Regions from separate parts of the Homo sapiens genome. Here all the other regions are linked to region 2. Evidence: fine-mapped expression QTL. A gene starts in region 2. Each other region holds a variant in brackets. All regions are shown on one strand. Distances are between the middles of the regions. Region 1 overlaps CDKAL1 (CDKAL1 threonylcarbamoyladenosine tRNA methylthiotransferase). Region 2 holds the start of CDKAL1 (CDKAL1 threonylcarbamoyladenosine tRNA methylthiotransferase). Region 3 overlaps CDKAL1 (CDKAL1 threonylcarbamoyladenosine tRNA methylthiotransferase).

Region 1 (5,225 bases), 670 kb after region 2:
TGTGCAGACCAGTGTGAGGATCAAACCAGCTTCACTGTGAGAGCTTTGAAGGCCATCCCTAGGGGCGCCCCCAATTACTAGCCCTCCTTCCCTGGCCATCTAAGTTGGCCTGCCTTTGCCCACCGAGGAGCCTGACTTCTGTTTCAGCATCAGGGTTTCTACTCCTCCAGGTGGGAGAGCAATTCAAAAGTGACTGAGGAAAAGAGAGTGCCTCTTTCAGGGTCATTGACCCTGGCAAGGGCCAAGGCCAGGGAAGAGATGGGATACGCCCTCCTCTCCCATCTTATGGTAGCCTGTGTCTCCCATCTCATGATAGCCTGTGTGGGAGACTGTCATGGGCGTACGGAGATTTTCACTGATCATTCTGGATTGTATTAAAATCAAATGGAGCTTCCTACTTTTTTGCTTCTTTCTTATCAGATAAGAGGTGAAAATGTTTGCTATGGATCATGGCTGGAATTAGAGCTTGAGAAGATGCTGAAGGCCAAGGTGGACAAGTCGGATGAGGGATGGGCAGAGGAAGCAGGCTGCCTGTGTCAGAAGGCAGGAAAGCAGGAGCTGAAGAGGCCCCCAGCATTGACATTCCCCAGGGAATCATCTCAGACTGGGCAGTGCGTCCCCAGGAAACAGGGGAGCTTTTCAAAGCCCAGACTAAACGTGCTCTGTTCAGTACCGGTGGAGACTGCAGTTGAGGAAGGGCTCCCAGCACTCCATGTCTGGCCTGCATCGCTTCCCCATTTCCCCATCTCATTAATATACCCCAGAGGGCCATTTTCCTATTCAGGCCAACCTTCTGCTCAGCCCTGGGGAGGAGCTTGATTGCATTTTGGTTGCCTCTTCTCTCTCCTTTCTCTTGCCATCTGGGTTTTGCCTCAGCAGGGAACTTTTTTCCCTTCATTTTAAAGGCAGTGGCATGCCTCGTTAGCTGCTTCCTCCAATTTAAAGCAGTCGGGCTTTTTCCAATTATTAAAACTGGAGGAGGGGAAAACACTGAGCCCTTCATTCAGATCAAGGCAGCAGATCAAGGAGGGTTATTTTTCCCCAGAATAGTACCAAATCTCCCAGGGTTAGTTTGGTCTAGAGATTTTCTTATTTTATAAAAACTGATTTAAATGGGCTTTTTATATCCTAACACTAAAGCTCTTTTAGTTCTTTTTGCCTGCCCTAAGTAATTCACCACCCAGGTGACCTTTTTCTTCTACTTTGATGAAGCAGTGTACTCAGTGGTCATAAAAATCAAACTCAGACCAAGATTCAATTTTGCCTTTCAGAGAGATTGGCTGTGGAACTCCTGGCTCTCATCTGACTTTTCTGTCTCTATAACTAAGCATATCAAAGATTTTCTAGGAATTATTTTTCTAAATAAGATGAGTTCCAGAGATGAAGATTGTATCTAGATATCCAAGTATTACTGGATTAGAACTGGTCTATTTATTTTGGATTCTAACTTGAAAAGACTGGCAAGTCGCTGCAGTGCTAAAATAGAAGTGTAAGGGAGACATCACACACACAAGCTACCTGTGGGTCCCAAAGGAAGGGAAACGTTTGCTTGAAGTAAACAAGTACTTTTATCAGGAATCTCTAGTGGAAAGAGACCACCTGACAGTTTCCTGTGAACAAGCCAAAGTACCCTTCAGAGGACTGGTTCTAGATGGAGGTAGATTCCCAGGACTGACAAACACATGCCTTTTCTAACAGAGCAAGGGAAATGAACGGCAGCTGTTAGTTTCAGGAGTCATTTAGCTCCAAACAGCAGTGTACAGTGTTATTGGAAGGTTCTTTTAAATGTACCTCCTTCTCCCTCAAAACACAGCACACACATGCACGGACACAAACACGCAGGCCTGTTTGAAGTGTCTTTTCAAACCATTACTCTGACAGCTCACTTGGAAAGTATTAAAAGTATAAGGCTTTCATCAGTATTGTCTCGGTTTTCCTCATTGCATGGAATAGCCAAAAGCAAGATATCAAAGGCCTGTCCAGAAGTGGCTGGCTGATTGCTGGGGGATTTCCCAGGTCTGCCTTCCACGTGCCTCAGGACATCAGGCACATCCTGCACTGGAAAAGCACTGCCCAGGGGCCCAGGAGCCCCTCCCAGGAGTGCCTTTCCTTCCTGCAGGCTCTGCAGACCCTTGAGCAGCTAGAAGATAGAGTCCACTTTGTAGGGGATCCCAGAACAGAAAAATGACATTGAGGGACAATGAGGAAACCTGGATAATTAGGTATGCCTTCGGTTAATAATATTAATATATCAATTTGGGTTCATTAATTGTGGCAAAAGTGCTATACTAATGTAAGACGGTAAATAATAAGAAAACTGGGAGTTAGGTATACAGGAGCTCTCCATACTATCTTTGCAATAATTCTATAAATCTGAAACTGTTCTAAAGTAAAATGTTTATTTTTAAAAATTAAGCCTCTGAAACAAATGTGTTTAAGGTTTTAGTGCCAAAGAACCCTGCGTTCATGGGGAAGATGGTTGAAGTGGACATCTATGAATCAGGCAAACATTTTATGAAAGGGCAGCCAGTATCTGATGCCAAAGTGTACACGCCCTCCATCAGCAAACCGCTAGCAAAGGGAGAAGTCTC[G/A]GGTTTGACAAAGGTAAGTAAAAGATGCTCTCCTCTCTACCCTGCTAGTAAAACAGCAGCTGTGGAAGCACAGTGATTCCAGGCCATGTTTCTGTTATCATTTATAGTTCCCTTTTTATGTATGCATGAGGCTTTAATCCTTTCTGACAGATTGAAATCTGAATTAGAAAGATGTGTTTTTGCTGATGCCGATAGCTTTGCTTCTCTGGCTGTAAAGAGAATAAGCTCTTTCTGCTTCCAGTTTAGAAGCAGGGGGTAAAAGCCATTATTTGCAGGTGAAAATGTTGACACCAAAAGATGATCTGATCCAGTATGTTTCTATGTCAGTAGATCCTGAGTGGAAGGGGATGAAGAAAGGGGTGTTTTCTTGCTTTACAAAGCTGTTTATACTGTAGTAAAAACCTACAGCTGAACAGGCACTAAACCATATCATATATGCAGTTATGGTGCCTTTCAGAAGGGTGTTAGCTGGATATCTACTTTAGTCATGTGGAGTGAAAATTAAACATTTTTTTCTTTCTATAAAAAAGTAACCTGACCCCTATTTTATACCTTGGTAAATATGGCCGTTTGCCAAGCTCTCTCACATTTCATTGAGCTACAGTTGTAAAAGCTGATGGAGTGTGAAATGAAAATGTGTATCACATTTCTAAGCATCATTTGATGTCCTTTCTCCAACACAATTGTTAAGCGCTTAAAAAAAAAAAGCATATAACAGTGATTTAACATATGGAAAAAAATAACTGATATTTATCTGGCCATGTAATTCCGAAATTGTTTTAATCTGTGCATAATCTTGTTCCTCAAAATAAATTGCAAGGACATGTTCGTTAAAATAAAGGGAATACCGCTTCACTCTGGCAATAGTACCGCTTCACTCTGGCAATAGCAACAAAGACAATACTATTGTCTGTGTTCTCACTGACTGTGGCACTGGATTCTTGTGTCCGACAGCAGTGATAATTCACATGTGCTTCACAAGTGCCCATGAAGGATCTGCGTGCATGGCCGTCTAACCCGTACTGGAATGGTATAGACCAGCTTTTGTTAAAATCCTACCAAATGCATCAGCCTGCATGATCAGGAGATAACTCTAAAACTTGATAAACATAACCATTCATTTTTGCTGTTTATTAAAAAAAAAAAAATTGTACTTGGGGGATAGTATGGGTGGCCAGGAAGGAGCAGTGTAACCTGGCATTTAAATTATATTGCTAGAGATTTGGCTTTTGATATGTTAGCCAATACTTTGAAAAATTTTTTAAGAAGTCAGCTTATTTTTTGTTTTGTTTTGTTTTTCCACATAGTGTGTTTTACAAGGTTAATTTTAGATTGCCACAGTGAAAAGGGTTTCTCAGCAAGTAGCAGTAGTGGGGAAATTATTATTTCAAAGACTCTGCCTGGTTTAATTCCTTCATGTTTGCCTCTTGGAAAGGGAGTATTGTAAACATCACCATTGATAATACATAAACAAGGAAATGTAGTGTCCCTCTATTCGTTCCTTAACTATAGTGTTACTGTCTAAAAGGGCAGTTCCGTTTAAATTCTCTGGGGCACCCTTTCTACTCTCCCATCCTTTCCTCTAGCCTAGAAAATGGTGTTATCAGTTCTACCACCAGCCCAGCTCTGAACCAGAATGGCCCAAAAGTCCCGGATAAGATGAGGAAGCCAGTTGGTTGCTGGTCTGTTAGAGCCTCTAGAAATAGTGTTGTAGCATGAGGCCAGTGGGGTAGGAATATTGATTTGGGTATTTACATTAAGAGAAACAGTAAGGCTTTTGTTGGTTCTTGTTTGTTTGTTTGTTTTGAGAGAGGGTCTCCCTCTGTCACCCAGGCTGGAGTGCAATGGTGTGATCACAGCTCATTGCAAACTCTGCCTCCTGGGCGCAAGCAATCGTCCCACATCAGCTTCCTGAGTAGCTGGGACTATAGGCATGCACCACCATCCTGGCTAATTTTTTTTTTTTTTTTTTTTTTTTTTTTTTTTTTTTTGAGTCAGAGTCTCACTCTGTTGCCCAGCCTGGAGTGCAGTGGCATGCAGTGTCAGCTCACTGCAGCCTCCACCCCCCAAGTTCAAGCAATTCTCATGCCTCAGCCTCCTGAGTAGCTGGAATTACAGGCATGTGCCACTACGCCCGGCTAATTTTTTATTTTTAGTAGAGACAGGGTTTCACCATGTCGGCCAGGCTGGTCTCGAACCCCTGACCTCAGGTGATCCGCCCACTTCAGCTTCCCAAAGTGCTGGAATTACAGACATGAGCCACTGTGCTCGGCCCCAGCTGATACTGTTTATTTTTTCTAGAGACAGGATCTCGCTTTGTTGCCCAAGTTCGTCTTGAACTCCAGGCCTCAAACGGTCCTCCCACCTTGGTCTCCCTGGCATCTAAAGCAAAATACTGTGCTTTGGACTTATTTTGTCTCACTTGACCTCTTTTTTTTTTTTTTTTTTTTTTTTTTCCTGAAATGAAGTTTTGCTTGTCGCCCAGGCTGGAGTGCAATAGCATGATCTCACTGCAACCTCCACCTTCCAGGTTCAAGCGATTCTCCTGCCTCAGCCTCCCGAGTAGCTGGGATTACAGGCGTGCGCCACCACACCCGGCTAATCACTTGACCTCTTTTGATGAAATTGATGAGA
Region 2 (5,225 bases):
TGCCACCATGCCTGGCTAATTTTTTGTATTTTTAGTAGAGACAGCGTTTTACCATGTTAGCCAGTATGGTCTTGATCTCCTGACCTCGTGATCCGCCCACCTTAGCCTTCCAAAGTGCTGGGATTACAGCCGTAAGCCATCGTGCCTGGCCTTTTTTTTTTTTTTTTAATCTTTTTGAGATGGAGTTTCGCTCTTGTTGTCCAGGCTGGAGTGCAATGGTGTAATCTCCGCTCACTGCAACCTCCACCTCCTGGGTTCAAGAGATTCTCCTGCCTCAGCCTCCTGAGTAGCTGGGATTACAGGCATATGCCACCACACCCAGCTAATTTTGTATTTTTAGTAGAGACAGGGTTTCACCATGTTGGTCAGTCTGGTCTTGAACTCTTGGCCTCAGGCGATCCACCCGCCTCGGCTTCCCAAAGTGCTAGGATTACAGGCGTGATCCACTGCACCCGGACTTACTGGTTGCTTTTCAAAGGTTGTACAGATACTATAAATATATTTAACCAATACTCTATTGAGGAGGAGCCGGAGAGGGTTTCCAGTCTTTTGCTATTGTAAGCAATGCTTAAAAAAATACTCTGGAACATAGGTCATTGTAAGCAATGCTTCAAAAAATACTCTGGAACATAGGTCATTGTAAGCAATGCTTCAAAAAATACTCTGGAACATAGGTCATTATGTATATTTCTGTAAGATAAATTCCTAGAGGTAGGGTTACTGACTTCAAAGGATTTAGACTAAAGGTGCTTAAAGAGAGAGGTTTCACCTGTTAGTTAGTTTTTGTAGCCAAAACTTGAAAACATCCTTTCTTCCTCTTTTTTCGTACCTATCAATCACCAAGTCTTGCTGCTGTTACCTCCTCAATTTGTTTAAATCTGTCCTTCCTTCCCATTCCTCCCAGCCAACAACTCAATTTAGGCTTTTACTATTTCTTCATGTCTGAAATATCGTCCTCAAACCCATTGTCCTGAGAGAATAATCTGCTCGAACACATTCATGTTGCCTACTACATACATCCAGGATTAAGTCTAATGCCTTTGAATACACAAGGTTCACCTTGATCTAGTCCCTGTGCTTCCCTTTCTCTGGTAGACTTCTCCCATCACCAGCTTCACTCTCTTTGCTTTTACACTGTGGAATAATTCATCATTTCAGGCCTCCTTGCTTTTGCTCTGGCTGACTCTCCAGCTTGGAATGCCTTCATCCATTTCCCTTACTTCACCTTTGTGTTCCTGTGCATTCATCTTTCATAGTGATTGCTATTCTCTACTGAAATGAATTTTTTCAAAATAGCCTGCAATTGCAATAGGCAGTACTTTTTTTCTTTCTTTTTAGCTCTAGCATCTATCACAGTGCTTGTGGTCATGGGGTACATACTCAGTAAAATATCTTTTACTGAACTCAACTAGATCTTGGGGGAAAAGGGGTGGAGTCATTCATTCATTCATTCATTCATTCAACATATGTTTATTGAGAAGCTATAAACATAGGCACAAGGTTATGTGCTAGGTAGTGCGATTACAACCAAGAAGATAACCCAGGGCCTACTTTTGGTCTAGTGAAAGAGATGGAATTAGATGGGTATGGTGGTGTGCACCTGTAGTCCCAGCTACTTGGGAGGCTAAGGCATGAGAATCTCTTGAGGCTAGGAGGGAGAGGTTGCAGTGAGCTGTGATGGTAACACTGTACTCCAGCCTGGGTGACAGAAGAAGACCCTATCTAAAAAAAAAAAAAAAAAAAAAAAAAAAGTAGGGCAACATAAATACACAATTTTAATTTAGGTGGGTAAAGACAACAGTGGACCCCAGGGCACAGTTTAGATTATTTTATGGATATGGATAAACAGAGAAAAGGGTGGTTTTTTTTTTTTTTTTTAAATCTATTTTAGAGACTGGGTCTCACTGTGTTGCCCAGGCTGTTTTCAAACTTCTGAGCTCAAGTGATCCTCCCACATCAGCCTCTTGAGTAGATGGATGGCATTTTAATTAGATGAAATTGTACTAGGAAAGGCATTTGCAAAACAAAGTAATTGCCCCAAATCACTATGAAACCCTAAGTCAGGCATAAAACTCACGATTTCTGACCCTTCTTCATGGCCTATTGCCTCCTATTACCTTTACTTTTTCAAGTAAAGATATTCTTCTGGTAAACACATGGTCAAATACAGTGTCTTGGGTAACGAATAGTAAAGTGAGATAACATATGTAGAGAAAGCGGGTGAGAATCCGTACTCCATAAAAGTATTTTCTTTCCATAGGTGTCTGCTAAACTGCCATCTAAGTTTTCCAAAACAAAAAACAAAAACACTTGTGTGGTGCTCAATGATGTATATTAAGTGAAACCTACCAACTGACCTTTATCCTTTCCTTCCTGTTTTTTTAATATTAAAGAAGAGACCTCTTTTCACAAATGATTGAGGAGGCTAGTAAAATGCAGTGAAAAGAGCAAGTTCTTTGGGAGTCAGACAGCATCGGATCCAGCCCAGAGCGCAGCACGACTAGTAGAGTAACTTAGATTAAGTCCTTAAACTTCCAGTGTCCTCTTTTGTAAACTGGGAATAATAATAATAATAAATAAATAGTGAATAATATTTATGCAAAGTACTTAGCACAGTGTCTAACACATAAAAGCTTAGGAGAAGTTGGCTATTAAGCATTTCTAGGAACCCGAGGACTCAGGGTTGTTATTTTAGTTCTTGGAATCAAAGGAACTTGAAGCGTAGTCATTCCTAAACTAAGTTAAACCAGAACTAGCGCTTTCAGCAATGATGTAATTTGATCTCTTCGGGCCACCGTCGCTGAGCATGCGCAAATAAACGTGGCGGGACGTATGTGTCATGGCGCTCTCCATCTAAAGTCTGTGCAGCTTCCGGAGAGTGGCGGGTTGATTTTCTCACTTTGGACTGGTTTTTACTTCCCGACTTCTGGGTAAGGGTGGCCGATGGGTCCATGTGGGGCAGAGTGTGGCCACAGCTCCTTTTATGGCCAAGCCTTGTTTCTCCAGTTTCAGTTTTTCTTGGGCTGTTTGCAAATTTGTTTCGCAGTTAAAAGGGGATTTGCCAGCTGGGATGGGGGAATTGGGAGGCAGATGGGGCTTCCAGGAGCGAGGATAGGGTCGTTGGCCTCAGGTGCCGCTCTCCAGTTAGGAGTATTTTAGGCACCTCGTTCCTTATTGTCAGGTTTAACTTCATTTGTTCTCCCACTTTATACCTTAGTGAATTTGTAGATGTGACAAGGCTTTCGCAGTTATATAGCTTTCCCAGATCAGTATGTTAAGAATTTAAGCAGAAGTTATTGAGAAAAGCAGGTGTCTTGCTTTTTCACTTTTCGTTCTTCTTTGCTCATAAAACCTTTTTCTGAATCTCGGGACGACAGTTATCTTTCGGATGGAACGTGATCTGGATGTCTATCTACCTTATTGACTTAATCCTGTTTTGTAGTGGTTGGTTACTCGCACTATGCAGACGTGTTGCGGTGCTGAATACAACATTTATTACTAAAGCCAGACACTGGATCACCGTCACGGCAGATGTCAGCACACCTGTTGTAATCAGTAAGAAGTTACAAGTAGTATGGAGCATCATTAATCCTGCTGTATAAAGCAGTCTTTTATGGAGTCTGATTCCTTTTAAGTAAAGAATCCTTACAGTGGTTTTGTGAACTTTTTGGGTGCTTACTTTTCCTAATCAATTTTTATTTTCCAGACTCATCTTTCAAGAGGACTTTAGACTAATTGCAGATAATTAAGGTACTGATTTATTTTAAACCTTTTATGTTTGAGTGCTGTGCGTATTTCTGCATGTTAGAAAATGCAGAGAGGTAGCCTAATGTTTTAGCTATTTGCCACTATCATGTTATGGAAACATTGTGCTTTACATAGCATTAAATCGAAGAGATATTTTCATTTATTTTACTTAACCTTTCATTTTCATTCACCAGCATTGACCATGTCCACTTTTTTGAGATGCCCTTTTCATTTGCCTTCCATGGCCCATGGATTTTTTTCCTTGTCTGGTGGCTGCTTCTTGGAATCCATTATAAGCTGATTTTCCTTTATCTGGCAGTTAAATTTGGAGTCTCTCAAGTCGTGGTCTTGTACCTTCTCCTACCTCTGTTCTCTTTTTCTTCCCCTCTGGGTGATGTAATCCACATGCCTGTCAACAGTTATTTGTCTTTTTGATTCTACCCATCCTAATGGGTATGAAGTGGTGTATTATTGTGGTTTGGATTTCCATTTCCCTGATGGCTCATGATGTTGACATCTTTTCATGTGCTTATCAGCCATTTGTATGTGTGTGTTTTTGAGACACGGCTTCCCTATGCCACCCAGGCCAGAGTGCAGTGGCTCGATTACGGCTCACTGCAGCCTTGACCACCTGGTCTCAAGTGATCCCACTTCAGCCTCCCAAGTAGCTGGGACTACAGGTGCATGCCACCATGCCCGGCTAAATTTTACTTTTTTTTTTTTTTTTGTAGCGATAGGGTCCGTGTTGCCTAGGCTCTGGCCTTGTACTCCTGGCCTGAAGTGATCCTGCCACCTTGGCTTCCCAGTGTTGGGATTATAGGCATGAGCCTCTGCACCTGGCCCATTTCTGTATCTTCTTCATCTAATCTGTTTTTCCTTTTGTTGCTTGTGCTTTTCATTTCTTAGCTAAGAAAGAAGGGCCTACTCTAACATCATAAAGATTTGTGCTTATGTTTTTTTCTAAGAGTTTCATAATGTTAGCTCCTAAATTTAGGTCTATGATCCATTTTCGGTTAATTTTTGTATATGATGTGAAATGTGAAATAGGGCTCCAACTTTATTTTTTACATGTTGCTATCCAGTTATCCCAGTGTCATTTGTTGAAAAAAAAACTACGCTTTCCCCCTTGAATTGTCTAGGTTATGTATATTTGACATACATTCTAGGTGGTTTTTATGAAAGAATAATTCTGGGACAGTGATTATCAAACTTTAATTCAGATCAAAATCACCTAGAGGGCCTGTTAAATATTGCTAGGTTTTACTCAAAATATCTGATTTAGTATGTCTGGAGTGGAGTTCAAGAATTTTCATTTCTGGCTGGGCATGGTGGCTCATGCCTGTAATCCCATACTTTAGGGGCCAAGATGGGAGGAGTTTGAGACCAGCCTGGACAACAAAGCGAGACCTTGTTTTTACAAAAAAACTGAAAAAGAAAAAATGTTCATTTCTAACAAGTTCCCCATGATGCTACTCCAG
Region 3 (5,216 bases), 700 kb after region 2:
TTCAATGAACAGGAAAGCGACATCTCCATTCTCCAAGGGCAATAATTTGTACTGGTCATGCTGCCTCCTTCTCAGCCACTCTTCTTAATGAGGCTCCCCCTGTCTCACATTGAGTTGGGCCCATTGGTTATTTGACCTAAAACCTAATCACCGCTACCATAGCACATCCTTCAAATTAAACTGCTTTTGGTTTACTTTTAGCAAGAAATGCAAGCGGTTGCATTTTTTTCTGTTTGTTTCAATCTCTAATCTTTAAGTCAGAACCTAATTGTACAGTGGCTCTGGCCATCTTTTCCTCATGTGGAAGAATTTTCTATCTTTAATAAACTTTTTCTTTGTTTTTTTTTTCCAGATGGAGTTTCGCTCTTGTCCCCCAGGCTGGAGTGGTGCAGTGGCACGATCTCAGGTCACTGCAACCTCTGCCTCCTGGGTTCAAACGATTCTCCTGCCTCAGCCTCCCAAGTAGCTGGGATTACAGGCATGCGCCACCAAGCCCAGACAATTTTTTTGTGTTTTCAGTAGAGACGGAGTTTCACCATGTTGGCCAGGCTAGTCTCGAACTCCTGACCTCAAGTGATCCGCCCGCCTCGGCCTCCCAAAGTGCTAGGATTACAGGCGTGAGCCACTGCGCCCGGCCTCTTTAATAAATATTTTTAAGTGCATCTTCCCCTTCAGGCTTTGTTTGGAGTCCCAGTGCTACAAACATTGTATTTTTCACAGCAGATGTGTTCCTGAAAAGTGTATAGAAACCTGTTCTGGGAACCTGAATGCTTTTGGAATGCACGGGGAGAGTCTGCCAGCTAAAGGACTCCTGGCAACATTCTGTGAAATATGAAACTGGAAAACTGGATTTGTCGAAAACTAATTGTGCCCATTTTCTCACATTTTTGATCCATTGGGGTTTTTTTTTTGTTTTTGTTTTTTTTTTTTTTTGAGTCAAGGTCTCACTCTGTCACCCTGGCTGGAGTGCAATGGCACTATCTTGGCTCACTGCAGCCTTGACCTCCTGGACTCAAGCAGTCCTCCTACCTCAGCCTCCCTAATAGCCAGGGGCTACAGGCATATACCACCATGCCCAACTAATTTTTTAATTTTTTGTAGAGATGAGTGTCACTATGTTGCCCAGGCTTGCCTGGAACTCCTAGCCTCAAGCAGTCTTCTTGCCTCAGCCTCCCAAAGTGCTGGGATTACAGGCGTGAGCCACTCCACCCAGCCCAGATTAAATGTTTTTATTTCTACCTGCCATCATTGGTCTTTACTAAGTGAAGTGACTTCTTTCTTTAACAATAAATAGAATTGGTATACTAAGCAAATCCTATGTTTTTGAGAATTTATTTGGATTGCATAGGTACAGGAAAACCAGGTACCGTGTAGTTACCATAGGATATTTTCCATCTCGAAACCCATACCCCTCTTCAGCTCTTACATTTAACTCAAAATGTTTGTGTTTTGTGTGTCTTTTAAGGAACCCAAATTAAAATTCAGTCATGTCCTAGTTGGTAAATTATAAAATATATATGCTTTTAGTGTTAGTACATTTCTCCTGGAACTGGTATGTGCTTCTAAGAGGTGCTCACATTTAGAATGCAAAAATCCTCCTGTGCTGCTTCTAGTCCTGCAGTGAAACATCCACTTGGGAGCACCCCTCACTTCTTAGCAGGAATGAGAAGAGGACAAGAACCTACCATGTGCCTCCCTTCTTGAGCTCTACGCAGTCATTTCTTTGTTAATAAACAGTGGGTTCCAGTGTGGTGCTCATTTAACAAAAACCTAGCAGAGATAAAAATGCCATCCAAAGCCTAGAGTTGCACTAGATCAGACATAGAGAAAGCTTTACACCTGTAACTGATTGGAGACAAAAAGGATTTTTTCTACCTCCCTTTTCTCTTTCCCTACTCTTTTCCTCACTCCCTCATCTGTTTATTTCCTCCCTTCTAGCTCTATGCTGTCCTCGCCTTTTTTCATTTTTTTCTTCCTGTAAGAGAATGATACACCCAGTCATCCAAATTCCCCCCCTGCTGCTCTCACCTACCATGGCAGGGATCCTCAAGGATCGTTTCAGCTGTACAGGATTCTCCCTACTTCCTGCTGTGACTGTTATTTACCCTCAATTTGGCTGCAGCTTCACTCTGCCGTTTGACCCAGAAAGGGACCGAGGTCACTGCCCGCAGCAGACGCTGGACCTTCATGAAATCAGTCTCCATACTGGCGACCAATTGGTGAGAGGGGTAGCAGTGTTCTGGAAATCCAGGGTTTTTCTTCCCCCTGTGACCTCCATCTCTAGGGAGGGGGAGGGAGAGAGCAGAGAAGGATGCAGTGCAAGTTAAAAACAGTTTTCTTAAGCCCTGGACTCTGAATGGGGCTGAGTCTGGGAACCACGGGAGCAAGTGTGATCATGAGTAGAGCTGTTACTTTTCCAGCCTGTCTCCTTCCTGCCCACAGTGCAACTGCGCTTCTCCCGCCCCGCTGAAGTTAGGCACGAAATGTGAAATGTGAGCGGAAGGGTCACGTCCTTCTTCGGGGCAGACATGTTCAGAGCTGGTGTACGGTTTACTGTGTGCTCTTCCCACTGCTGTGGTGATCCTGGACCCATATGTCAGAATGACGCCTCCCCGACCCTGGGTCCCTGAGTTAGTACAGTTGAGTAGGGCTCCTGGCCAGCATGTGCTACATAGGCATCAGGAACCAGAAATATATTGTGGTTGTGTTAA[G/T]CCACCGGCATCTGGGGGTCGTAGCCGTAGCATTCGTAACCTGATTTATACGAAGTGTCAGCCGTGATAGGATGCTTGACCCGCAGATTGTAAATGTAATTGTTATGTTTTCTTTGTATGCTTTTGTATGCTTTGCATTAGTATCAAGGGGTGTGTGTGTGTGTGTGTGTGTGTGTGTGTGTGTGTGTACTTCTCTGCTGAGAAGGAAACCTATGAAGTGATCTTTTCAATGCTTTGGCCAATTTTTTTCTTAAACTCTTTACTAGAATAAAACATACATATGAAATGGACATAAATCATAGGGATACAGGGATTTTTAAAAACTGAGCAAGCATTGTAGCCAGCACCAGGAGGCTCCCCATGTACCCTCCTAGCCATTAAGTCTGCCCCGCAAGGAGTAACCAGTATCCTTATTTCTAACATTACAGATTGATTTGCCTGATTCTAAACTTTCTATAAGTGGAATCATGTAGTATGCACTATTTCATGTCTACCTTCTTTTGTTCTACAGTGATTGTGAGACACATCCAGATTATTGTGTGAGCAGTAATTACTTCACGTTCATTGCTGAATAGTATTTCAGTGTATGAGTACACCACATTGTTCATTCTACATTTGAGTTCTTTCCAATTTTTTGTCTATTATGAATAATGCTGCTATAAACACGTTTTGTTAAGTGTTTATGTGATGATGTGAGGAGTACATGTCTAGGGGTGGAATTGCTGGGTCATAGCATTTGCATATGTTCAGCTTAGATACTGCTAAATGGTTTTCTGAAGTGGTTGTACCAATTTACATCCCCACCAGCAGTTGACATGAATTCTGTCATTCTCCCACTATTTTTTCTCTTTGGACCTTAGATATTCTTCAGCAGACCTTGTCTCTGCTGTCTCCCTTCCACAAGTCATTCCTATTTTAATAGTAATGATAATATTGACAACCATTAACTGTCTAGTCCTTAAATGAAATGCACTGGATGTTATACTTTGCACTTAACAGGTGTTAATCAGTCCTGAAGAAAAAATTTTGAGATACGTATTGTGATTCCCATCATACTGAGAAGAAAATCTAAAACTCAAAAGACTAAGTAACTTGTGCAAGAGGCACAGAGCTCTTAAGTTTAGAGGCAGGACTGGTACACAGCCTGACTCCAAAGCATATACTCCTCTTCTGTAAACTCCTCCTGCTCCTCTGTCCCATCTTTGACTTAAACTTGACCTGTGCCAACAGATACACATTTAGGATCAATCCTGTGGATGCCTGAGCTTGGGGGCCTTCAGCCTTTCAGTCTGTGTTGTCCTGCTCCAAGAATGTGCATGGTACTTGATATACTTTTTAAATAAAGATTTACTAATCAAGCTTTTTTCTTTGCCCTGCCCCCTCCTTCCTTCCTTCTTTCTTTCCCTCCTTTCTATTGTCCCTGCTTCATCTTATCATCCCTGCTTCCTTTCTTATCATCCCAGCATGAGATAGTCAGTTTGAGAATGTAAAGAATTCTTGGGTTAAAACTTTGCTTTGTTGCTGGGAAAATGTGTCTAAACATCAGATTTCCATATGTCATTCAGTCAAAACATATACTACTTCTACTGACTTCACTCCAGGTTGAAAATTTCAGTGTATATTGTAAGATGTCATGGAGGGAGAATTAGAGTTACAAATCAAGCTTCAAGAGGGTTTGTCATCATAAAACAAACATAGGAAAAAAATGAAGAGAGAGAGGGAGGGAAGAGAAGAAAGGAGGGGAGAGAAAAGGAAGAAAAAGAAAAGGAGAAAAGATATTCTTAAGGCTTGCAGCAACAACAAAAAAGGTAATCATATGAGATGATGGGTATGGTAATTCACTTGACTGTAGCCACCATTTTGCTGTGTATATGTGTATCAATACATGTTCACCTTAAATACTCACAATAAAAAATGAATATGTACGTTTTCTAAAAGGTTTGCTGGTCCCCCCAGGCACCCCAGGATGCTGTGGCACATTCACAGGAGCACCCTGGGATTCCTTAAATTTTTGGAGGGAACACAGCAACATCTGTCAGATACCAGGCCAACTACCAGCTCAAAATAGTTCACAGTTTTCAACGTTAGATTTCACAAATTTTGATGACACCATGTCTTTATAAAACTGGATTTTCAGCAATTGCTGTGATAAAAAGCAAGTATCAAGTGAAAATCAATGTGGAACAAGAAGTGAAAATTGTGATCATAGTCCAAGGTTTGAGAAGGGGTGCTGTACCCAACAGATGCACAGCTGCCATTAATAAGTAAAATTAATATGAAATAAAATATTAATATTTTTATCTAAGTTACATGTATTATTTTTTCAAACGGTTCTCATAAGATAGTAGGATATAAATGCTTATTCAGTTGTCAGGATTACCTATTTAAACAGAAGGTTAGCTGCTGCTTTTGGCCTAGGGGTACAAACAATCAAGAAAGTTTGAAAACCTCTGCTCTATGATACAACCTAATTTAAAGGATCCATGTCAAACTTATAATCTGGAG

The links.
Region 1: its variant is fine-mapped to the expression of CDKAL1 in tibial artery (GTEx, PIP 0.94).
Region 3: its variant is fine-mapped to the expression of CDKAL1 in whole blood (TOPMed, PIP above 0.99). The same link has a PIP of 0.9 or more in monocytes.

What each region holds. Positions count from the first base shown.
Region 1 is chr6:21,198,671-21,203,895 of GRCh38, forward strand. CDKAL1 (CDKAL1 threonylcarbamoyladenosine tRNA methylthiotransferase) reads left to right here. Exons shown (of 16, transcript NM_017774.3): 15 at 2,440-2,604. Among named protein-coding and RNA genes, the nearest start is that of LINC00581, 310 kb to the right of the region's middle. The variant G/A (reference allele first, on the strand shown) is at 2,592.
Region 2 is chr6:20,531,645-20,536,869 of GRCh38, forward strand. CDKAL1 (CDKAL1 threonylcarbamoyladenosine tRNA methylthiotransferase) reads left to right here and starts at 2,813. Exons shown (of 16, transcript NM_017774.3): 1 at 2,813-2,930; 2 at 3,707-3,750. RefSeq lists enhancers at 2,742-2,901, 2,932-3,011.
Region 3 is chr6:21,231,092-21,236,307 of GRCh38, forward strand. CDKAL1 (CDKAL1 threonylcarbamoyladenosine tRNA methylthiotransferase) reads left to right here. Exons shown (of 16, transcript NM_017774.3): 16 at 1-1,313. Among named protein-coding and RNA genes, the nearest start is that of LINC00581, 280 kb to the right of the region's middle. RefSeq lists an enhancer at 1-329. The variant G/T (reference allele first, on the strand shown) is at 2,712.